Linked DNA regions of Homo sapiens. The protein of the gene in region 1 interacts with the protein of each later gene in a biochemical or structural test. Each region holds a gene or a part of one and is shown on either strand. Other genes may lie near its edges. The genes, in order: DOCK4, SIPA1L1, MAST4, MAST3, RHPN2, PPP1R9A and MYO18A.

Region 1 (3,500 bases):
TGTTTTCCAGCCCTACTTAAATGGGCCCTAGTCCTCATTCTCCACTGCTGCCACTTGGTAGCCAGCATAGCCACCTCCTTCCTCCCCACACTCCTCACATTGAGCAGGGTCCTGATGGCCCCTGCAACTGCCTCACTTTAAAGGAAGGGAAAGAGAACACAAAGGAGGAGTGAGAGCTGGGATGGGGGTGGAGTGGGAAGTGAGGAGTGAATGGCAGGGGAAATGCACGAGGGATTATGAAAGAGAAGATGCCAGGGAGGGGAGGCCTCCTGAAGTGAGATGCAGGAAGTAGGAAGTAGGTAGGAGGGAAGCAGCAAACTGGGGAGAACAATAGAGCTTTGCCTTTGTCGCCCTGAGTCTCACTCTGTGGAAATATCTGATATGCCAAATATAACCAATCAGTTTTAAAAGGTTTCAGTCATACCCCAGGATGTCTGAATTACATCTGAATAGTCAACATTTTCAGGGTTTTTGGTTATGAAAACATCATAAATCTCTTTTTCAAAGTCAGTATTTTTAAAATCACTTTATTTTTCTCATTCTAATTCCTCCTCCTCCTCTTACCCGTGTTTGTTGCAGATAAACATTCCTGTTTGGTACTGAATTCCTTACTATTAATAGTAAATCCTTTGTGAGGTTTTTCTCTTGAATCTGGCTTTGGTGGAGCTTGCTTCTCTTTCTCCTTGAGATTCTTAATGCTTTTTCTCACTGGTGTTCTCTATATTCTCTTTTTCTTTCTCATCTTACCTACTTCCTTGGTTTGGGGGGTTTGGAGTTTTTGTTCCCTCATCATCTTTCTGTTTCTCAGAAAGTCCCTTTTGGGTTTCTGCTAAAACAAGTGATTTGAAGTAAATTTCCTGCTTCCCTGCCTGGAAATTCTGTCCTGGCTCCTCTCTCGGCCAGTCTAGTCTGGCAACTCCACTGAGCCCTGAGGCCAGTTCTACCAGGTCCCGCTGCCCTGCGCGTGCTCGGCACACGCGAGCCTTCAGTTCTCACTGCATTCATTGGCCTCCAGATGCCACCTCTCCCTGCATGCGTTGGAGACTAATAATGCATGGAGACCATCTCCCACAGCCTTTGTAACTTCTGCCCAAGAAAGATAAATTTATTCCCTCCCCAGGTGAAGAGGTTCTCTAAGGACCTGCTGGACCAAAGCCCTCATGTCTGTTTAGGAAAGGGTTAAAGAGCTGGGCCCTGTGCTTATCTGGACTCTGGGATGAAAGATGGCCTGTGGAGTCCAGGAGCTGCTCTTCTCAGGTTGAGAGCTCCCTGGATGATCTAAGAAATCACTGGGCCTGTTACCATTCTTTTAGTCTGCAAGATTTGGGTCACATTGCCAAGAAGACCTTTGTTCCTGGGTGGAGTTGGTTGCTAGGCAGAGTGCTATGTGCTGGGCACCCAAACGGGAATAAAGCAGGTTCCCAGCCCTCAAGAAACTCTCATCTTTCCAGGAGGAGGCAGAAAAATTAATCAACAAATATTTGTCACCTGCCTGATTTGTAAGGATTTGTAAGTGCTACTGTGATGTGGAAGCATGTAGAAGGGACAGTTAGCTCGAGATTTCAGGAAAGGCTTCCAAAATGAAGCAACATCCGATCTGAGGACTAAAGGATGGGTAGGAGTTTGTAAGTCAAGAGCAGTGGAGAGGAAACAGAATACAGTGAAATAAATGCCATCCTAGAGAGGGCTAGTCATAGTTTGTGGGAGCCTGCAACTTGAGTGGCTAGGAGAGGGGAGCCACATGTGTTAAGAATTTTACTTTTACTAGCAGAACGCTTTCATGTGAGGACCTGTTCTCTATTAAGGCAATTAATCTTCCTTTTCTATTTTGAAAGGTGATATGCTTGATCTTTTGAAATGGAGAACCCACCCAGACAAGATCACTGGCTGTCTCTCTAAATTAAAAGAAATTGATGGCTCAGAGATAGTAAAGGTATATAGTATTTCATTACTATTTTCCTTGCAGAGATTCATAGAATAAAGAACATTTGGAGGAAAAAGACAGATAGTATCTTATTTACTCATTTGCTACTTCTTTATCTAACAGTTTCTGCAGGATACACTGGATACCTTATTTGGAATTTTAGATGAAAATTCCCAAAAATATGGGTCTAAAGTGTTTGATTCTTTGGTAAGTTCAAATTCCCTTAATTGTATTTTAACTGTTTTGTCTCTCAATCTTGACTTTCATGAGGCTGGTTCAGAAACATGTGCTTAATAATGTAAGAGTTCATTTTAAAAAGAAGCAAAAAAAAAAGGAAAACCTTGATTTGCATTTAGTTTTATAAAGCTCAATTTTCTTTTTTTAGGTTCACATAATAAATTTGCTGCAAGATAGCAAATTTCATCATTTTAAACCTGTAATGGACACTTACATTGAGAGTCATTTTGCTGGGGCACTTGCATACAGGTAAGGCCCTGTATCTTGTAATTAGTTTAGAAGTGGTTCCTTTCAAGCTTTTCTCAGCAGAAGAGGCGATATAGGAAAATTTAAAAGGGAGTGTAGGAAGAAATGGAGCACTACTGAAGTGTCTCTTGAGATAGTCTCTTCCCTGCTAACACACCCTTTTTAAATGGGTAGAACTTATTTTGATTAAAAAGGGAAAAAAACCTCCTGAATTCTATTCCTGAGCCCTAAAATATAAAGTCTTTCCTTCTTGTCTCTGTTTCACTGGATATTCTTTGGTCTAAAATGTCTGGTTATCTCACTTCGGCTGTTAAGAGTCCCACTTCATCACTGTACTCCCTGATGATTATAAATGTTCATAAGAAAGAAATATGAATGGAAAACAACCTTTTCCTTCACACCTGCTGAAAGTCATCCATTCATTTATGTTAGGATTTACTGAGTGCCAGCTGCTTGCCAGGCACTGTACTTTATGCTGATGATGTGAAGACCTGGTCCCTGGCCTCAGGCAATTTAGTCATTGGGATCTACTCTTTGATAGGAGCTGCTATTTTAACTGCTCCTCCTTTTCTACTGGCTCAGGTGGTGCTGAAAAGTTATGAATAATATTATGCTTTGGCTAGTGCCTGCCTCCTCTCAACATAGTTGATAATTGCCAGAGGCCACAGCTTCTCTCTTTTAGTTCGACAAATAACTGCTTAAATAGCCTTGGAGTGTACCCCATCGTCTGTCTCCCAGTCCAATATGGTCCTTGCTGTTCTCCCATATTTCTACCTTATACCTTAAGCACCTGTGGGCATGCACATGCCTGACTGTTCCCTGAGGTGAGTTTAAAAAGCATGAAATCAGGTTGATATCCTTCCCCCATCTATGTAATATATAAAGGTTAATAGGTTATCAGATAAGCATTTGATCCTGTTTACTTGGATATTCCCAGCCATGACAGGTTAAGATCGACGTCTCCAACATCGAAATGAATGAAGGTATTTTTGTTAGACTTGACACTTCATCAGTGTGATTTTTTGCTGAGAGTGAAATGCAACCGCAGGAATAGTTTTGAAACATCGGCCCACTCAGCCTAACAATTTGGGCC
Region 2 (2,617 bases), on another chromosome or scaffold:
GAAAGCCAATTGAAGTAAATGGCACAGATAAACTGGGGCTTGCCATTGAGGACTTCTCTGAACAAGTCTGCAAGGAAGTGCTCTCAACGAGAAGGCACAAGAATAGGGGATCATTTGTTATGAGTATAGGAGAGAGGCCGCACTTACCTCTGGCACTGCTGGGGTGAGGAGAGCAGCAATCAGGCTGACTGCTGAGAACTTTAAAAATGCATATCCCAGAAGCAAGCCCCAAATGTGCCTCGTTAGGAAGGAGCCTCCAACAGAGAGAAGTGTGAGTGAGCCAAGACTGTTTTCCTGTGAAAGGATTATTAAAAAATCAGCAGATGAGGGTGATGACAGGCTCTTTTCTTGGGTCAGCATGGACTGAACAAATGGAAATGGAGGTGAATAGACAGAATGCTCCTGAGCGTTGCTGCAGTCCTGATGAGCTGCAGTGGCTTTGCGAAGGATACCACTGCTGCCCGGCCCCAGCCTCGTTGTGTCTGTCCAGCACCGCCCCTTTTCTACCACATCCGTGGCCTTCAGCCCACCCAAAATCGGACCAGCCTGCCGTACCATACTATGCGGTTATGGACTGCAGCTGACCATGTCCCTTCTCAAACCCATTCATTGTCAGCTTTTCATTGGCCTTCCTGCCTTAGAGATTGGAGGTCATGGTCACTCCATCAGCCCACAGCCTTGCCACACTGTACACCACGGTGGGTTTTGCCTCCTGGGGCCTCTTGTAGACTTAGGATTAGCAGAAGACATCAACACAGTTCATCTGAGGTCAGGAATTGTAACTTGAATCTTTATTTTTAAAGTAAAGAATACCTTTTACTCCGTGACCTAGAAAATTCGGAGTCACTTAGCTCTTTCCCATTGGCGCTGGGAAGAGGCTCTGCATGTTTTCCCGATGGAAGACTTTGGGTTCTCTGTGGTGTGCCCCTGAGGATGTATAGCTTGGCTAGGAATCAGGAAAATTTGGCAGCTTGAACTCAGGTAGAGGAGAGTGTGGCAAGAAAAGTTGTCAGTTCCTCAGCCATAGGACCCTCGGGGTGAGAGCGTGCCCAGCCATGCCGTCTGTCTAGCTCGCTGGCTGGCCTGCCGTACCCCAGCTCACACTTCTTTCGGTACTCCACTAGCACGGCATGATTAGCGTGCCATAAACAAAAGAAAACATGAGAAAATGAGAAGAAAATGGTTTTTTGATCAGACTGGGACAGAATTTAAGACATTAAGCCTAGGCTAACAAGATACTTAGACCAGTGGTTTAAGATGTAGGCATGATACCTTAGCTGCAATTGCATGAGTAGCTAAGACCACACACTTGGGACCAGAGACGACCTGCCTATCACATCAGCTCCCCAGCTTCCTTCCCACACACAGGGGAGTAACTCCTCTGTCAAAGCCCACTAGAGAGATCCCAGAGCCTCCCTGGGAATCATTTTACTGTTTGACAATTATATCTGCCAGAAAGTACCTCTTGTGCTGCCAAAGAGACCATTTTCACTATTGTGCTTCATTCTTTAGTCGTGAGGATGCAGCATCTTTAACAAAGGAAGCTATTGATTGGCTGCAGTTCAAGCTTTTATTACCTTTTTTTAAGACTACCATTTTCTTTTTTAAAGTAAAAATACTCATTGGGTCGCCATACTGAGTAATTTGACATTGAAAACCATTTTATAAATACAGCCTCCTCAGAGTAAAAAAAAAAAAAAAAAAAAAAAAACAAACCCAGCCATGGAGGCCCCTGCCAACATGGTCTTTTGTTTCTTGTTCCCAGCAGTAAAGACTCCTCTCCCACTCTGGCTTCTAAAGTGGACCAGCTGGAAGGTATGCTGAAGATGCTTCGGGAAGATTTGAAGAAGGTAAACATGTATTCTCAAAGCAAATTGTCCAGTCTGTACAAACTACCCTTGAACCATGAGAGCCCTTTCTAAGTAGCATGGTAAAATAAGACGTGGGTGTCTTCCCGGTGCCTGCATGTGTTTGGGGATGCAGGGATTTCAGTTGCCACTGGAACACACAGCATGAGGAGGCGTTCGGTGTCCGGTGTACAGAAAAACTGTTCAATAATTTGTGAAAGGCTGTGAACCTCAGCCAGCACCATCTGGGTCCTCTCCCGGCCTCCCCACTCCTTGTGTAATGTGTCAGTAGCCCAGACCCCCATGTAGTCGGTGTTATTGGGGCTTTTGCACCAAAAGAACTGAATGTTTTGTTTTTTGGGTGGCCTTGACTATATATCAAGACATCAGCCACCAACACAATTGTCTAAAATTTAAGACAATCCTGACTAACAAGGATGTTAAAATACACATTAATGTACTTACATTCCAGGATTACTTAGAGCTAATCCTGCAGGGTTGAATCTCTCTAGAAGCCCTGCTCCCTGAGCTTAGAGTGTCTTAGCACCTGATACCAGTCCGTTTAGACAGGTGTTTGGAGGAACGAAGAATAGAAATGGACAAAAGATCAAAACGGGTCCATAGCTATTACTCAGAAGAGCTGGGCAAGGTGGGGCCAACACCTCTTAGCTTTTCTACTTCACTCTGCCTCCCAGGAAAAAGAAGACAAAGCTCACCTTCAGGCGGAGGTGCAGCACCTGCGAGAGGACAACCTGAGGCTACAGGAGGAG
Region 3 (3,500 bases), on another chromosome or scaffold:
AAACAGTGCCATAGCAACTGCTGTTAGCAACATCAAATCTCCTACTGATAAATTATCAGAAAAACTTGTGGGGCTTTGGTTGTAGAATGAAAAAGTATGATTTTCATGTCTGTATTTCTTTGCTGATATGTTCTCAAAATTGTTGTTAAAAACTGATGTTTGCCTTTGCTTAGTGGGGATAGTTTAACACTTTCCTCTCTGTCTCTACCTGCCCCCTTCCAGGTGGTGCATATGAAGTCAAACAGCATCGATTCTTCCGTTCTTTAGACTGGAACAGTTTGCTGAGACAGAAGGCAGAATTTATTCCCCAACTGGAATCTGAGGATGACACAAGTTATTTTGATAGTATGTGCTTTATCTGACATAAAACATTGTTTGGCCTTTACTCGATAAATAATTATCTTTGCTTTTGAACCTTTTCATATCTCTGAGTTCTTAAACATAATGTTGATCCAGAAAATCATAATTAAAATATCTAAATGTTGAAAATCTGAGTAATTGGACCTGTTCCCAAACATTTCACTGCAGCTCGGTCTGAGAAGTATCATCATATGGAAACGGAGGAAGAAGATGACACAAATGATGAAGACTTTAATGTGGAAATAAGGCAGTTTTCTTCATGTTCACACAGGTTTTCAAAAGTAAGTGAAATGTGGCATAAACATACAGAGTCTCTCTGGGAGGATCTCCCGCTGGCCAGATAGTATCCCCGAACAGCTGGACACTTACCGTTTTCCAGGGTTTGAGGTCTCCTATGCTTAAACTTCCTTTTGTTGAAGAAAAGTGACCTCCTCAACTTATAGTCTGTCCCTATCCCCTAGGCCTTTAGACTGCCATTTTACCTTCTCTCTTTCCTGTGAGACAACAGAGATTCAGATAGCTGAGACCTTGGGCTTACCTGAGCTCTGATCCCCTTCAGGAACCCCGGCACCAATATATTTCTCTCTCCACAAATTAAGATATTGTTTTCTTAGAGGCATAGCCTTGCACCCACAGTCTTGTTTTTGGAGTGTGTGACTGCTACTTATATGATGACCTTGCCTTGAACGTCTCTCACCTGGCTCAATGCCAGGCTGCAGAGGTATCACTCATTGCTTTCAACTCAGGATGAAGAGCGCGAGCTTCACTGTGTACAGAGTCATCTCCGAGGGATTACACAGAGTACAACAAAAGGAGAAGGCTCAGTCCTTGACATAAGCAAAGATACCTGCGGACAGTTGACTGTAGGATTGTAAAGTCTCATAACTGCCAGGCATAGTGGCTCACGCCTCTAATCTCAGCACTTAGAGAGGCAGAGGCAAGAAGATAGCGTAAGCCCAGCAGTTCAAGACCAGCCCGGGCAATATAGTGAGACCCCGTTCTCCACAAAAAGGAAAAAAAAAGCCAAAAAAAAAAAAAAGTCTTGTAACCAATAAACAGAAATTATAAGCCATATTGAAAAGGCAGTAGGAAGCCAAGCTAGAATCATTTAGATAATTGATGCTTGAGAAAGATGCCTTTTTACCAGTACAGTAAAAGTTAAAAAAAACAATTAATCAAAACAAAGAAAACTGATAGTACTGAGACAGAACAAGGCCCTAGGAAAAACGGAAATCAACCTGAGGGCACCCTACCTCCCTTTTGCTATTTTCAGTAGCTATATATTTTCTGTTGCCATGGCATTTTGCATGATTATTGTTTAGCTTTTCTATAACATTTAGTGATTTTAAAGTGCTCCGTAGCTTTTTCTAAATGATTACCTAGATGCACCTGCAAATTGGCCAGCACTACCCTCCTGTGTATGGGAATGGCATCGAGGTAAGGATTTCCCTGGAGAAGGTGGTAGCCAGTCTGTCCTAGAGCCAGGACAGAAGCTTTGCTAAGTGTGGACTCAGACCAGGACTGTTCTCTGGGCCATCAAAGACAACAATGCCAACCCCTAAACACTGCTTCCTTCTTTGCCTTGGTGGGTATTTCATTTTCCCACCATCTCCTTTTCTGTAGCCACTTTCCTGCTATTCCTAGTAGATTATAGGAGGCCTGAGGACCATTCCCATGAGAGCAGCAAGTGTCTGAGCAGGGCAGTAGGGAGCGCTTCCTGCCCTAGGCTCTTAGACCCCCATTTTACCTTCTCTCTTATGAGACAACAGAGATTCACAGATAGCTGAGACCTTGGGCTTACCTGAGCTCCGATCCCCTTCAGGAACCCCGGCACCAACATAGGAAACTGCCTGTCTATAGATGTGATTTGTAAGCGAAACAAATACCTCTGGCTCTTATAACGGAATATGTACTGCATCCTTGCCACACCACCACCCAGTCTTGAAACAGATAATTTATTCTTCTGTTTGCACTCAATTCCAATTCATTTTTCTTCTTCCCACCCCTGACTGGTGGCCATTAAATCTGTTTCTCTGTTATTTTCTTTTTCCAGTTGACTTCATGGTTAAAAAGTAATCAAGATGTGCATTGATCCCAAGGCCTAGAAACTCCACTGCATCTGTGGATTTTGTTTGCAGATACAAAGTCCGCAACAAGATATGATGAGAGGATGATGAATTCATAGCTCCCTATTCGTATATATGTACACACACACACACACACACACACACACACTCACTCACCCTGACCCTTCCTCTCTGGATTCTGGTTAACAACACTGGAAAGTACTTTCTGAATACACAATATTAGTTCAGAATTTAGTTATCCTCTCAGGTTTTTCTCCCAAGACTTGGAGTGTTTTTCTGACAAACTCTTTTTAGTAGATATTAATAAGCACCAATTATTTGCCTTCCAGGTTTTCAGCAGTATAGATCGAATCACTCAGAATTCAGCAGAAGAGAAGGAAGACTCTGTGGACAAAACCAAAAGCACCACCTTGCCATCCACAGAAACACTGAGCTGGAGTTCAGAATATTCTGAAATGTATGTGAAATGCCTCTTAAGTAATATAAGCAGTAGCTACTAGAGCAGAGTTTCTTAAACTTTAGTGAGCATCAGAATACCTGGGGGGCTTGTTAAAACACAGATCTCCCACTTCCAGAGTTTCTCATCCAGTAGATCTAGGGTAGGGCCTGAAAATGTGCATTTCTGACAAGTATCTAGATTATGCAGATGTTGCTGCTGTGGGTACCACACATTAAGAACCATTGCACTAGACATCTCTTGGTTAGGCTTATCCAAGTCCGATTTTCACCTGGTTTCTTCCAAAATTCACCTTTAACACAGTTTTCTAGTATGTATATATGACTTTGTTTTTGCTTTTAATTAAGGCAACAGCTATCAACATCCAACTCTTCAGATACTGAAAGCAACAGACATAAACTCAGTTCTGGCCTACTTCCCAAACTGGCTATTTCAACAGAGGGAGAGCAAGATGAAGCTGCCTCCTGCCCTGGAGACCCCCATGAGGAGCCAGGAAAGCCAGCCCTTCCTCCTGAAGAGTGTGCCCAGGAGGAGCCTGAGGTCACCACCCCAGCCAGCACCATCAGCAGCTCCACCCTGTCAGGTAAGCCCCGGGC
Region 4 (3,500 bases), on another chromosome or scaffold:
CTACAGGCGTGCACCACGGCACCCGGCTAATTTTTTAAGCAATTTTTTGTAGGCCAGGTGCAGTGACTTACACCTGTAATCCCAACACTTTGGGAAGCCGAGGCAGGTGGATTACCTGAGGTCAGGAGTTCAAGACCAGCCTGGTCAACATGGCAAAACCCCATCTCTACTAAAACTCCAAAAATTTAGCCGGGCATAGTGGTGCACGCCTGTAATCCCAGCTACTTGGGAGGCTTAGGCACGAGAATTGCTTGACCCTGGGAGGCGGAGGTTACAGTGAGCCAAGATCGTGCCACTGCACTCCGGCCGGGGTGACAGAGCGAGACTCTGTCTCAAAAAAAAAAAACAAAACAAAAAACAAAAAATTGCAGAGATGGGGTCTCCTTATGTTGCCCGCCCTGGTCTCGAACTCCTGGCCTCAAACAATCCTCCTGTCTCAGCCTCCCAAAGTGCTGGAATTATAGGTGTCAGCCACTGCACCCAGCCTGGAAGCTGGGTTTTAAAAGTTGAATAGGAAGCCGGGTGCAGTGGCTCACGCCTGTAATCCCAGCACTTTGGGACCCCAAGGCAGGCAGGTCACTTGAGCTCAGGAATTCAAGACCAGTCTGGCCAACATGGTGTAACCCCGTCTCTACTAAAAATACAAAAATTAGCCCAGTGTGGCGGCAGGCACCCATAATCCCAGCTACTTGGGAGGCTGAGGCAGGAGACTCACTTGAGCCCTGGAGGCAGTGGTTGTAGTGAGCTGAGATTGCACCACTGCACTTCAGCCTGGGTGACAGAGTGAGACCCTGTCTTTAAAAAAAAAGGTGAATAAGCGGTCTCCAGGTGGACAGAGAGGACAGTGCAGACAGAAGGAACTCGTCCTGTCTATGCAAATTACCCTTGACTGCAGACTGAGAGTTAAGATGTGGCCATGAAGGTGGCTGAGTATCCTGGGGTGCAGGTGCCTGGCAGGGGTGATGCAGGCTCTTCCTCCCTGCAGGCTGAGGTCCTGGACATCCTCTGGATCCTCCTGTCAGTCATCTTCGTCCCAGCCCGAGCGGGGTCCCAGCCCATCTCTCCTGAATACCATCAGCCTGGACACAATGCCCAAGTTTGCCTTCTCATCAGAGGATGAGGGGGTAGGCCCAGGCCCTGCAGGCCCCAAGAGGCCCGTCTTCATTCTAGGGGAGCCTGACCCCCCACCAGCGGCCACCCCAGTGATGCCCAAGCCCTCGAGCCTTTCTGGTAAGTGGGGCCCTGAGTAAGAGGGATGATGTCATGGAAGTTTCCCAGAGGAGGGGCTATTTGAGATGGGTTTTCAAGGATGAGTAGGAGTTCTCCAGAGCCAACAAAGGCTTTAAGAGAGGAGAAGCCAGGGTCCCAGAGAGACCCCCAGCCCCCAAGGAACCCCAGTCTAGGGTAAATGCCCCCAGCTTCATAGAGTCAGGATGGGACCCCTAGCTCCCAAGATGGGGGAACTAAGGGTCTAAATGGGTGTGGAGGAAGGCTTCCTGGAGGAGGGGACTTGAAGACTTTTGCATAGAGAATAATTTGGGAAGGGAGTGCAGGAAGAGGGAACTGCATGAGCAAAGGCCAGGAGGCTGGACTGTGTAAATAGTGACCAGGGAGGAAGGGCCTTAAGGTCCCTTTAGGACCACATGGTGAGTTTGAGGGGCACCCAGCTGACCCTGCTGACCCTCTAGCCGACACAGCTGCTCTCAGCCACGCCCGCCTACGGAGCAATAGCATCGGCGCCCGACACTCCACACCAAGGCCTCTGGATGCCGGCCGGGGCCGCCGCCTTGGGGGCCCAAGAGACCCAGCCCCTGAGAAGTCCAGAGCCTCCTCCAGCGGTGGCAGTGGTGGCGGCAGTGGGGGCCGCGTGCCCAAGTCAGCCTCTGTCTCTGCCCTGTCCCTCATCATCACGGCAGGTAATGCCCAAGGCCCCTCTCACCTTTGTCTGTCTGCACCCATTTTCACCAACAGGGTGGGGGCCCTTCCTGAGTTGGGGAGGCTGGGGATGAGCCCCAGAAGAGGGGAGGAGGAGTAGGACACATGGAGAGCTGGGGAGATGGTGTTCCCAGTAGAGGGCACTGCACGTGCAAAGGCCTGGTGGGGTGACCATGCTTGGGACATTGAAGCAACAGCAAAGTGGCCAGGGTGGTCGTTGTGGTGGGAAAGAGGGGGCCCCAGGGGAGACCTGTGAGGGAGTGAGTGACCCCCTCCCTAACCCCCTGCAGATGATGGCAGCGGCGGCCCCCTCATGAGCCCCCTTTCCCCGCGCTCTCTGTCCTCGAACCCGTCGTCCCGTGACTCTTCGCCGAGCCGAGACCCGTCCCCCGTGTGTGGCAGCCTGCGGCCCCCCATCGTTATCCACAGCTCTGGCAAGAAGTACGGCTTCAGCCTGCGGGCGATCCGCGTCTACATGGGTGATAGCGACGTCTACACTGTGCACCACGTCGTCTGGGTGAGTGCCGAGTGGGAATGGCAGGGACCCGGGTTCTAGTTTGACTCTGCCCGGTCATGTCCCTTCTCAGAGCTGCATTTTGGAGCCTGGCAGGGTTAGGTAGATAGAGCTGGTGCCACCGAGTTCATCTCGGTCCCTGTCATTTGGCAGGGAGGAGGTCAGATGAGAGAGACAAGGATGGATGGATGGAAGCTCACAGATCCCAAGTGGCATTAACCTCCCAGCTCCATATGGGGACGCACTGGGCATGTTATCCTCCCTCTCCCAGCCCAAGGGCGTCGAGGCATGCCCTCCCTATTGGTTGCTCCCTGAACAGACACAGAAGGCTTTCTGGAGAAGGGGGCGTAGGAGCTGGGGCTTTGATGGGTGAGTAGGAGTTCCCCCAGGATCAGGGAAACTGAGACAGCACAAGAGGCAGCAGCTTGCTGGGGTCCCACAGCAGACCCAGCCTGGGCTGGGGTCCCCAGATGTGGGGCCCAGGCCATTGACCCCACCGTTCTCGTCTGCCCCCAGAGTGTGGAGGACGGAAGCCCCGCCCAGGAGGCGGGCCTGCGGGCTGGGGACCTCATCACCCACATCAACGGGGAGTCAGTGCTGGGGCTGGTGCACATGGACGTCGTGGAGCTGCTGCTGAAGGTGCGGCACCCCCACTGCCCACCCTCAGGGCTCCCCAGCACCCCTTGGCCGCAGCTCCCGGTTCCCCGTGGTTCTCCGCGTCCAGACACACAACCCCACATTCAATGTCAACTCCAGGCCTGGCACATCCACTTCCTTCGGCCCAGAATACATGTCCTTCTTCAGCCCCCAACATCACCCCTTAGAGCTGCTCCTCCAGGAAGCCCTCCCTTCTCCCTGGGCACCCTCACATCTGTTCCTCCCTCTGGCCTGAGGCCTGGAGGTAGGAGATGGGCTCAAGACAGGAGGAAGGGCCGGGCGCGGTGGCACACGCCTGTAATCCCAGCACTTTGGGAGGCCGAGGCAGGATGATCACCTGAGCTCAGGACTTTGAGACCAGCCTGGGCAACAGAGCGAGACCCCCATCTCTGCA
Region 5 (3,500 bases), on another chromosome or scaffold:
AAACTACATAAATTAAGAAAATAAATTCCCCCACTTTGAAAATCACTATAAGTTTTTCTTTATTCTGCCTTTTTAAAAATGGGTTCACAATTGACATATTACTATTATGCACACATATGGTTTTCAGCCACACTTTATAACATCTGACCTCATTTTTCTTTAAGGATTTTATCCTGGAACATTACAGTGAAGATGGCTATTTATATGAAGATGAAATTGCAGATCTTATGGATCTGAGACAAGTAAGTTTTTGTGTGCAGCAGAGAGGGGAGGGTGGCTTTTCCGAGTCTTCAGGGAACCCCATTATTGCACGCTTGTGGTCTTAACAGAATCGCGGGTGGATAGAGGTGATGGTTGGGGGGTGCTGGAATCATCCATTCCACTTGCTGCATAAGAAAACTGTAGAAGGAGGCCAGGCGCGGTGGTTCATGCCTGTGTAATCCCAGCACTTTGGGGTGTGGAGGTGGGCGGATCACCTGAGGTCAGGAGTTCCAGACCATCCTGGCCAACATGGTGAAACCCTGTCTCTACTAAAAATACAAAAATTAGCTGGGCGTGGTGGTGCATGCTGGTAATTCCAGCACTTTGGGAGGCTGAAGCGGGTGGAACACCTGAGGTCAGAAGTTTGAGACCAGACTGGCCAACATGGCAAAACCCTGTTTCTACTAAAAATACAAAAACAAGCCAGGCATGGTGCTACACGCCTGTAATCCCAGCTACTCGGGAGGCTGAGGCAGGAGAATCACTTGAACCTGGTAGGTGGAAGTTACAGTGAGCCAAGATCGCACCACTGCACTCCAGCTTGGGTGGGTGACAGCAAGACTCTGTCTCAAAAAAAAAAAAAAAAAAAGAAGGAAAACCATAGAAGGGGAGAGCCCTGCCTCAGGGCTGGGACTGGATTCCAGGATTTCTGACTTCCTCCCAGGTTCTTTCCACCCCTCCCAGAGTTTACGATGCCAGTAGCGAGGTCATCATACTGCAGAAATAGTTACAGGCACCTGCTGGTATGTGCAGGGCACCTTCTGGGAAGGGCCATCAGCTGTGTCCTCCTCTGCTCATGCCCTCTTGGGTTCTTTTCCTTGCAGGCTTGTCGGACGCCTAGCCGGGATGAGGCCGGGGTGGAACTGCTGATGACATACTTCATCCAGCTGGGCTTTGTCGAGAGTCGATTCTTCCCGCCCACACGGCAGATGGGACTCCTGTTCACCTGGTAGGTGCTTGAGGTCTGCGCTGGCGCTTCACGTGTTATGGCAGCCACAATTTTGGAGCCTCAGCATCACAGACGCCCCTCTGCGGGTGCCCCTGTGCACCTCAGCCCCCTTTCCTATCTTGCATTTATCTGGGGAAGTCTCAAAAGATGTCAATACATTGGTATTTATTTATGAAGGTGATCCGAGGGGAGATGGCTCCAACAGACTGTGGCCTCTTGCTTCTCAGAACAAGCGAGCCAAGGAGAAGAGACATTTTTCTTGCTCGTTGTATCACTGGGGAAGCACGGGGGCTCTGAAGTGGAATTAGCCAGAAGCGAGATTCTTATCTCAGATTGGACAGGGGCATGCATGTGTATGTGTGAGTGAGAGAGAGAGAGAAAATCAGGTCTTATCCAGTGAGGCAAAAGCACCAAACAGAAATAGATCAGGTTTCTTTTGAAATGGGGTCTCACTGTGTTGCCCAGGCTAGTCTTGAATTCCTAGGCTCAGGTGATATTTCTGCTTCAGCCTCCTGAATAGCTGGGACTATAGGCATGAGCTACTCACTCAGCTTAGATCAGATTTAAAAAAAGGAAGTAGAGCATTTGATTCTTCTCCACAATTGGTATTTTCAGACAAGATCAGGCACGTCAGGGTGGTATGGCCGTAGACCCAATTGGTATTTTCAAAGGTTAGTATAGTTTAAATACTTGGGAGGCCGGGTACAGTGGCTCACACCTGTAATGCCAACACTTTGGGAGGCCGAGGCAGGCAGATCACTTGAGCCCAGGAGTTTGAGACCAGCCTGGACAATGTGGCAAAACCCCATATCTACAAACAATACAAAAATTTGCTGGGTATGATGGTATGCACCTGTTAGTCCCAGCTACTTGTGAGGCTGAGGCAGGAGAATCACTTGAGCCCGGGAGGCGGAGGTTGCAGTGAACCGAGATCACACCACCGTACTCCAGCCTGGATGATAGGAGTGAAACCCTTTTTCAAACAAGAAAAAAAAAGGCTGGGCGTGGTGGTTCACACCTGTAATCCCAGCACTTTGGGAGGCCAAGGCAGGCAGATCACGAGGTCAGGAGTTCGAGACCAGCCTGTCCAATATGGTGAAACCCTGCTTCTAGTAAAAAGTACAAAAATTAGCAAGGCATAGTTGCGCGTGCCTTGTAGTCGCAGCTACTTGGGAGGCTGAGACAGGAGAATCGCCTGAACCCGGGAGGCAGAGGTTGCAATGAGCCAAGATCACACCACTGCACTCCAGCCTGGGTGACAGAGTGAGACTCTGTGTCAAAAAAAAAAAAAAACAACCTAAAAAAAAGTACTTTGGAGATGCTGCACCCCTTCTCTGAGTGTCGTTAGGAGTGTCAGTGAAAGGAGAACACATCCTAGAAGATCAGGGGCATATCAGAATTCAATGTTTCTACAGCTGATGGGTGGCTACTAATGCCTTCCTCATGGAAAGCAAAGGAAAGGGGGATGACTTTTCCTAACAATGCACCAGGCTGTCTGCATGGCCGAAAAGGCGAAAGGTGGTTTCTCCTTAGTCATGAATTAGGGAGAAGCTGTCTGCACACCCCCTGGTTCATGAGTAAACTTTAAAACAAGTCCTAGGGCCAGGTGCGGTGGCTCACGCCTGTAATCCTAGCATTTTGGGAGGCCGAGGTGGGTGGATCACCTGAGGTCAGGAGTTCAAGACCATCCTGACCAACACGGCGAAACCCTGTCTCTACTAAAAATACAAAAATTAGCTGGGCATGGTGGTGGGTGCCTGTAATCCCAGCTACTTGGGAGGTTGAGGCAGGAGAATTACTTGAATCCGGGAAGTGGAGGCTGCAGTGAGCTGAGATGGCGCCACTGCAGTCTAGCCTGGGCGAAAGAGCAAAACTCTGTCTCAAAAAATAAAAAATAAAAAAAATAAAAATAAAACAAGTCCTAGGCTGGGTGTGGTGGCTCATATCTGTAATCCCAGCAGGTTGGGAGGCCAAGGTGGGTGGATCGCTTGAGCCCAGGAGCTTGAGACCAGTCTAGGCAACACAGTGAGACCCTATCTCTACAAAACAATTAGAGAAAATTTGCCGGTCATGGGTGGTGCATGCCTGTAGTCCCACCTACTTGGGAGGCTCAGATGGGAGGATCTCTTAAGCCCAGGAGGTTGAGGCTGCAGTGAGTCATGATCATGCCACCGCACTCCAGCCTAGGCAACAGAGTGAGACTTTGTCTGAAAAAATAAAAAGTAAAACAAATTAAAACAAATCCTGAGTTTTTAGATTTCAGAAAGAATTATGAGGGGTTAGTAATTGC
Region 6 (3,500 bases), about 17 Mb from region 1:
AATGGAGTGTGCAGCAGGTTTCTCACTGGTTAATGAGCCTAAATCTGGAGCAGTATGTATCTGAATTCAGTGCCCAAAACATCACTGGAGAACAGCTCCTGCAGTTGGATGGAAATAAACTTAAGGTAAAGAATTATATGTCTGTCTTAGGTTACCAGGTATAATTTGTATTACTCATATCACCTAAAATGTTTTCATTAGGTAAGAGCATTCTGCATATCTGAGAGGTAATTCTCATCAATATTCAGCAGAAAGGATGTTGAATTCTTTCTGAGTAGTAAATGAAGTCTCAGAAAGTCCATCAGGGGTTCCAAATCAAATGGTAGGCTGCTGATTAGGAGAGTGAGGGACCCACTCCATTGCTTCCACCTGGCAACACATGGTCCATATATTAACTCTCCTTACATCTGATGTAGTATGAGTTTTAATAATGGCCACTGTGGACTTTTTCATCACATTAGAATTAAGACCCAGATCCACGAGTCTTCTTTTCCTTGTTCATTTCTCCTTCACCTCCACTCTTCCTTACACACCACTCCCAAACTGGGATGATGTTCTCCCCAGAAGTTTTTTCCCCAAATATGTACACACATCTTCCCTCCCCTCCATGGCACTTTCATTTCCACTTGTCCAGTCCATCTCTCTTAGAGACCAAGGTGGCATCCATCCCTTTGGGAAAGGGAAAAAGGTGCTTACAGCCAACTCCATGTACCCCCAAGCCCCACCCCCGCCTCAGCCCCCTGCTGGGCTGACGGGCAGACGAGTATCTCTTGACAATCTTGAAAAGGTTAGAGATCAATCAATAGCTTGTGAATATGAAGGCCTCATTGACAAGGCTGTCCCTGTTGGGGAGATAGATAGATGCATCCTGCTGTTGATTCTGAAGGTCACGAAACATTTAAAGTACATAAGCAACTCCCCTTATTCTGAATTCTAAGTTCATCGAGCAACCTCCTCATTATAATCAACTTCCTTTATAGGTCTGCCTACAGGGAAAGAATGGCTAGTCATGCTGACACGAGCATTCTGGCCCCAAAGACATTTTTGGTTCTCATTGTAATGAAAACATTGGCAGAAAGGAAGCCATTTCAATTCTTCTTGCCCTTCTTGGAGCCCTCTGTGACAGCAGGTGCTCACTCCTATGCTTTGAAAATATTGATGAGTTTAGCAATACCTTTACCCGTAAATGCCTACAGCCCAAAGGTTGGAGAAGTAGAATTGTGCCCTTTTTCCATTCATTCACCCATTAATTACTCATTTGGAAAGCATTTAATTAATGAGCTTTAGGGTATACTTTGCAAGGGACTTCAAAGAACAAAAGAAAAAATAAAGGGTAGCCCCCAGTGTGTTGGTTTTTAGCAAATGTAACTAGTTCTTCCTCTGTTCTTACCTCTTCAATGTTTGAATTAGTTTACGAACTTGGATATATGGTATGTTAACACCATCAGAGGGCTCATTGGTTTTCAAATTCAGTTTGTGTGTGTGTTTCTTTCTTAGGCTCTTGGAATGACAGCATCCCAGGACCGAGCAGTGGTCAAAAAGAAACTCAAGGAAATGAAGATGTCTCTAGAGAAGGCTCGGAAGGCCCAAGAGAAAATGGAAAAACAAAGAGAAAAGCTAAGGAGAAAGGAGCAAGAGCAAATGCAGAGGAAGTCCAAAAAGACAGAAAAGATGACGTCAACTACAGCCGAGGGTGCTGGTGAGCAGTAACACATACCCTCTTACAGATGATGGAGATGCTCCAAGAGAAGTCCCCACCTCTTCCTGCCCTGCTCTCCTCCAGAGGATGAAAAAGAAACTAAATGATAAGGGTAATGCGGCTCTAGGCCGGCTGAGGAACTGTGTGTTGAATAACTGCATTTTCTGCAATAGAATGCACTCTTAATTTTAACTACTAAAATAATCCCAAGCCACCTTTGGTTCATTAACAAACCAGAGATTTCATTTAAGTAGCTGTGTTTTGCTCTTCTCTAACTTACCAACATCTTGTGTTGTGTTGGGTGTGTTTTGTCACTTGGAGAACTAGTGTGACCCCACCCAAGAGCATGACACACCCTGGTGTTGTTAATGGAGCGCCGTGAATTTTCAGTGTGGGATCCTGAAATGGCAATTGCACATGTCTGCATGGCAGAGAGCACCCTGCCATGAGATCTGAGACCAGTACTTAACTTCTAGGACTGCAACACCTACTCCAATGTGTGGGAAAGATTTGCTCTTAATTCTCAGTCTGGACAGTGAGACCACCCCGCTGTGGAAACATGGGTGCTCTGCTCTGTAGTTACCTACTAAGGGAAAAGGCAAGCAAGTCATTCTGCTTGCTAGGCATCAAAAAGAAAGAAAATAAATTATAGCTATTTGTTAACCACTGAAAAAAGCAAAAGCCTTAAGAATGTGGATGTGGGTATTACCTTGGGGTTCTGAGGGTAATATTTATCCTCTAGATACGGCTGAACAAGAAAGAAAAAAATCAGACATTAATGCAGCCATGGGATATTGGGATCTGTTGACCTTGCTACTGCTGTGTGTTCAGCATTTCAGCAACACTGGCAAACACAACACAGTTCCTCTTCCCCCTACCTAACCCAAGAAATTGAACAGGAAATTGATTTTTAAGGAAACCACCATTTTCAGGTTTCCTCTCCTGGGGAACATTCTGGCTGGTCTTCAGCCTGCCTATGTCACAATCAGGAACTCATCACATATTTTCTACTCAAGATTTCCCAGGTGGGCTCAGTTAGTATTTTAACAAATGTACTTTTAAGAAAAATAGAAATACCAGTTAGAGGAAACTGTCAGTTAACATTTTAGAGAGATTTTGAATGGTTTTTCCGAACCATTCCTTTCCATACTTCAAAGATTCTCAATTTTACAGAAAAAGTTTGTTTAAGGCAGTGCATAGGTATACTTTAGTAGTGGAGGAACTTATACTAATTTTAAGCCAGCATTAAGGATTTCCATGTTTCACCAAACTAAGTCAAGTGCAGGAGACTGGGGCAGAAGAAGGAGAAAATAAACTCGTTTTGAGAAATTTCATGTGATGAGGGTTTTTTGTTTTTTATGCTCATGTATCTGGTTCTCTTTGCTGCGTTGACTCTAAAAATGAGGTTATCCACTTTCCAAAGGACAAGTTTCAGAATAAGACTTGAGGCCACATGAATTCTTGGACAGTATTTTACTTCTTTTACTTTATGGGAATCTCTGCTCTGTTCCCAGCATCTCGTATCTTCCACTAGAAGTATTCCATATTTAGAGCCTCGGCAAGGCTTTTGAGTGTAACAGATTAAGGGAACTCCCTTGTAGCCCCATCTTGTATTTTAATAACAGTGTGATTTTTTTTTATCTGAAAATCTGAATTCAGAAATTATCTAAACTGGACATTTTTAATTCTGTTTTACCCCCAAGGCCTGTTTTCTTTTCATTGCCAGAGTATTGTCGGTTATGCGTCAGCTCTTTTGTCATTAGGTACAGACCCTTCATTCAATCCTCAGAAACGTTGACAT
Region 7 (3,500 bases), on another chromosome or scaffold:
TCAGGAGGCTAAGACAGGAGGATCACTTGAGCCCAGGAGTTCAAGTCTGTAGTGATCTATGATTGAGCCACCAAACTCCAGCCTGGGTGACAAAGCAAGACCTTGTCTCTTAAAAAAATTTTTTTTTTTCACAGATACCACTGACTTGACCTCTGAAAATACATTAGTTGGTGCAAAAGTAATTGAGGTTTTTGCCATTAAAAAGTAACGGCAGGCCGGGTGCGGTGGCTCACGCCTGTAATCCCAGCACTTTGGGAGCCGAGGCGGGCGGATCACGAGGTCAGGAGATCGAGACCATCCTGGGTAACATGGTGAAACCCCGTCTCTACTAAAAATACAAAAAATTAGCCAGGCGCGGTGGCGGGCGCCTGTAGTACCAGCTACTCGGGAGGCTGAGGCAGGAGAATGGCGTGAACCCGGGAGGCGGAGCTTGCAGTGAGCAGAGATCGTGCCACTGCACTCTGGCCTGGTGAAAGAGCAAGACTGCGTCTCAAAAAAAAAAAAAAGGGCCGGGCGCAGTGGCTCAAGCCTGTAATCCCAGCACTTTGGAAGGCCGAGGCAGGCAGATCACCTGAGGTCAGGAGTTCAAGACCAGCCTGACCAACATGGAGAAACCCCGTCTCTACTAAAAATACAAAATTAGCCGGTCATGGTGGCGCATGCCTGTAATTCCAGCTACTCAGGAGGCTGAGGCAGGAGAATTGCTTGAACCCGGGAGGCGGATTGCAGTGAGCTGAAATCGGGCCATTGCACTCCAGCCTGGGCAACAAGAGCGAAACTCCGTCTCAAAAAAAAAAAAAGTAACGGCAAAAACCATAATTACTTTTGCACCAACCTACCAATTTGTGTTTCCACCAAGACTTATGAGACTCCCTGCATCCCATGCCCTAATTGATTGATATTATCAACCTTGATAGTTTTTACTAAACTGCTAATTGAAAATAGTATACCTCAATTTCACATGTCTGTGAATGTTATGGAGGCTGAATACCTGTTCATGTTTGATGGCCATTTGTATTTCTGCCCCTACAAATTGCCTGTCCATAGTATCCTTGGCACTAGCTACGTGGGCCCTCTGGACTCAAGCCAGTGTGATCCAGCTTGGCCTTGTGCTTATCAAGTTACCTTCACTTCTTTGGGCTTTACTTTCCATGTACAAAGGTTTTGACTTATTTTAGTCATACTTGTGTACTCTGTTATCCTCTCTACTGTGTCATTTAGACTGCAAAAACTGTGCCCTGCTACTATTAGGTACCTCTCTGAGGGTAATTAAATATATTTCATTTAATTCCCCCACCTTAGGTGGTAGGTACCATTATTATCTCCATTTTTATAGATGGGGAAATGGAGGCATGGAGGCCTTAAGTGATTTGCCTGAGATTTCATAGCTATTTACTCATATTTTTTTTCATTTTTATTTAATTTTTTTTTTTTTAGACAGAGTCTTGTTCTGTCGCCCAGGCTGGAGTGCAGTGGCATGATCTCGGCTCACTGCAACCTCTGCCTCCCAGGTTTCAGCGATTCTCCTGCCTCAGCCTCCTGAGTAGCTGGGATTACAGGCGCATGCCACCATGCCCAGCTATTTTTAGTAGAGACAAGGTTTCACCGTGTTGACCAGGCTGGTTTCGAACACCTGATCTCAGGTGATCTGCCCTCCTCGGCCTTCCAAAGTGCTAGGATTACAGGCGTGAGCCATTGCGCCCGGCCCTGTTTACTCAGATTTGTTCACAGGTTTGTTACTTGATATCCAAAGCCTGAGCTCTGACACTGGGCTTACTTATCTTTATGTTGCTTGCCTTTAGGAAGTGGCTGATAGATACATATTTTTTCCCAAAATTTTATCACAATGACCTGCAAACATTCAGAAAAGTTAAAGAATTTTGCAACGAATACCCTCCATTTCCTAGATTCTACAATTAACATTTTCCTATCCTTGCTTTTACACATCTGTATCCCTTGATCCATCCATCAGGCTATGGTTTTTTTTTTTTTTCTTTCTTTCTTTTGAGACAGGGTCTTACTCTGTTACCCAGGCTGGAATGCAATGGCATGATCGTGGCTCAATGTAGCCTCGACCTCCCAGGCTCAGGTGATCTTCCCACTTTAGCCTCCCAAGTAGCTCCCACAGGCATGCACCACCACATCCAGATAATTTTTTGTATTTTGAGTAGAGACAGGGCTTTGCCATGTTGCCCAGGCTTGTCTCCGACTCCTGAGCTCAAGCGATCTGCCCGTCTCGGCCTCCCAAAGTGTTGGGATTATAGATGTGAGCCACCTTGCCCAACCTCATCAAGCTGTCTTAAAATTTTACACATCTCAAAGTAAAACGTAGACATCAGTATATTTCGCCCCAAATACTTTAACATACATATCATTCACTAGAGTTCAATATTTGTTTATAGTTCTTTTCTTTTGAGTGGATATTTACAAACAATGAATGCACAAATCTTTTTTTTTTTGAGATGGGGTCTTGCTCTGTCTCCCAGGCTAGAGTGCAGTGGCGCAATCATCTTGGCTCACTGCAACCTCCGCCTCCCAGGTTCAAGCGATTCTCCTGCCTCAGCCTCCCTAGTAGCTGGGACTACAGGTGTGTGCTGCCACGCCCGGCTAATTTTTTTTATTTTTATTAGAGACGGGGTTTCAGGATGGTCTCGATCTCTTGGCCTCATGATCCACCTGCCTTGGCCTCCCAAAGTGCTGGTATTACAGGCGTGAGCCAACGCGCCTGGCTGAACGCACAAATCTTATGTGCACCATTTGATAACTTGACAAGTGCATATACTTATCAACCCAAACCGCTATCAATATACAGGACATGAATATCACCCCAAAAAGTTCCCTCATGCGATCCCACTCCTACCCCCACCATAGGTTAGTTTTGCCTGCACTAGAACTTCATATAAAGAGAATCATACCCATATGTGCTCTTTGTCAAAGACTTCTTTCCCTCTCACTTGACATCATGATTTTGAAGTCCATCCCCATTGTGTGTATCTTTAGTTGTTTCTTTTTTCTTGCTGAGTAGTATTCCATTGCATGAATATGAGCATTGTTTATGCACTCTGATGGACAGATAGATGTATATTTGAGGTTGATGGTCATTGCCTTCGGGATGCTTACTCTCTTAAAGTGATAGAGCAGCTGAGTTGACAGATTGTACTTTCTTTTTGTTTTTGGGGATAGTAAGAGCAAGATTATTCGGGTCCATACCCTAACTTACATAGATGCCTTCCTTTTCTTAAAATTAGGAAAAACTTCTTAGAGTATGATGAGGAGAGAAACGCAGAAAAGGAGGTCAGGAAAATTATAAGGTTACCTTTACTGGAGTGGAGGGAGAGGGTAGGAGAGGAATGGGAGGCAGATGGAAACTGCAGCCCGGGATAGGGGGTAGGAAGGTAGTGGTATCAGAGCTGTTGGAGACTTTGGACCTGAGGCCAGGAGGTGCCGGAAAGTGCAAGGTCTACAAGAAGGCCATGGAGCAGCAGTCGCATTGCAGATCT

Evidence for each region.
Region 2: the proteins of DOCK4 (region 1) and SIPA1L1 interact in a test that uses a peptide from one of them, tested with the Homo sapiens proteins (one large-scale study listed by IntAct).
Region 3: the proteins of DOCK4 (region 1) and MAST4 interact in a test that uses a peptide from one of them, tested with the Homo sapiens proteins (one large-scale study listed by IntAct).
Region 4: the proteins of DOCK4 (region 1) and MAST3 interact in a test that uses a peptide from one of them, tested with the Homo sapiens proteins (one large-scale study listed by IntAct).
Region 5: the proteins of DOCK4 (region 1) and RHPN2 interact in a test that uses a peptide from one of them, tested with the Homo sapiens proteins (one large-scale study listed by IntAct).
Region 6: the proteins of DOCK4 (region 1) and PPP1R9A interact in a test that uses a peptide from one of them, tested with the Homo sapiens proteins (one large-scale study listed by IntAct).
Region 7: the proteins of DOCK4 (region 1) and MYO18A interact in a test that uses a peptide from one of them, tested with the Homo sapiens proteins (one large-scale study listed by IntAct).

What each region holds. Positions count from the first base shown.
Region 1 is NC_000007.14:111,870,900-111,874,399, reverse strand, and holds part of DOCK4 (dedicator of cytokinesis protein 4), read left to right. Parts: intron 1-1,835; coding exon 1,836-1,933; intron 1,934-2,047; coding exon 2,048-2,131; intron 2,132-2,309; coding exon 2,310-2,410; intron 2,411-3,500. UniProt on the Homo sapiens protein: Functions as a guanine nucleotide exchange factor (GEF) that promotes the exchange of GDP to GTP, converting inactive GDP-bound small GTPases into their active GTP-bound form. Involved in regulation of adherens junction between cells.
Region 2 is NC_000014.9:71,736,476-71,739,092, forward strand, and holds part of SIPA1L1 (signal-induced proliferation-associated 1-like protein 1), read left to right. Parts: intron 1-147; exon of another isoform or gene 148-294; intron 295-1,765; coding exon 1,766-1,850; intron 1,851-2,542; coding exon 2,543-2,617.
Region 3 is NC_000005.10:67,141,893-67,145,392, forward strand, and holds part of MAST4 (microtubule-associated serine/threonine-protein kinase 4), read left to right. Parts: intron 1-222; coding exon 223-345; intron 346-528; coding exon 529-641; intron 642-2,776; coding exon 2,777-2,904; intron 2,905-3,251; coding exon 3,252-3,487; intron 3,488-3,500.
Region 4 is NC_000019.10:18,142,778-18,146,277, forward strand, and holds part of MAST3 (microtubule-associated serine/threonine-protein kinase 3), read left to right. Parts: intron 1-883; exon of another isoform or gene 884-985; coding exon 986-1,230; intron 1,231-1,688; coding exon 1,689-1,916; intron 1,917-2,225; coding exon 2,226-2,452; intron 2,453-2,965; coding exon 2,966-3,088; intron 3,089-3,500.
Region 5 is NC_000019.10:33,009,389-33,012,888, reverse strand, and holds part of RHPN2 (rhophilin-2), read left to right. Parts: intron 1-164; coding exon 165-242; intron 243-1,085; coding exon 1,086-1,210; intron 1,211-3,500. UniProt on the Homo sapiens protein: Binds specifically to GTP-Rho. May function in a Rho pathway to limit stress fiber formation and/or increase the turnover of F-actin structures in the absence of high levels of RhoA activity.
Region 6 is NC_000007.14:95,288,594-95,292,093, forward strand, and holds part of PPP1R9A (neurabin-1), read left to right. Parts: coding exon 1-125; intron 126-1,497; coding exon 1,498-1,710; 3' UTR 1,711-3,500. UniProt on the Homo sapiens protein: Binds to actin filaments (F-actin) and shows cross-linking activity. Binds along the sides of the F-actin. May be involved in neurite formation. Inhibits protein phosphatase 1-alpha activity.
Region 7 is NC_000017.11:29,170,399-29,173,898, reverse strand, and holds part of MYO18A (unconventional myosin-XVIIIa), read left to right. Parts: intron 1-3,500.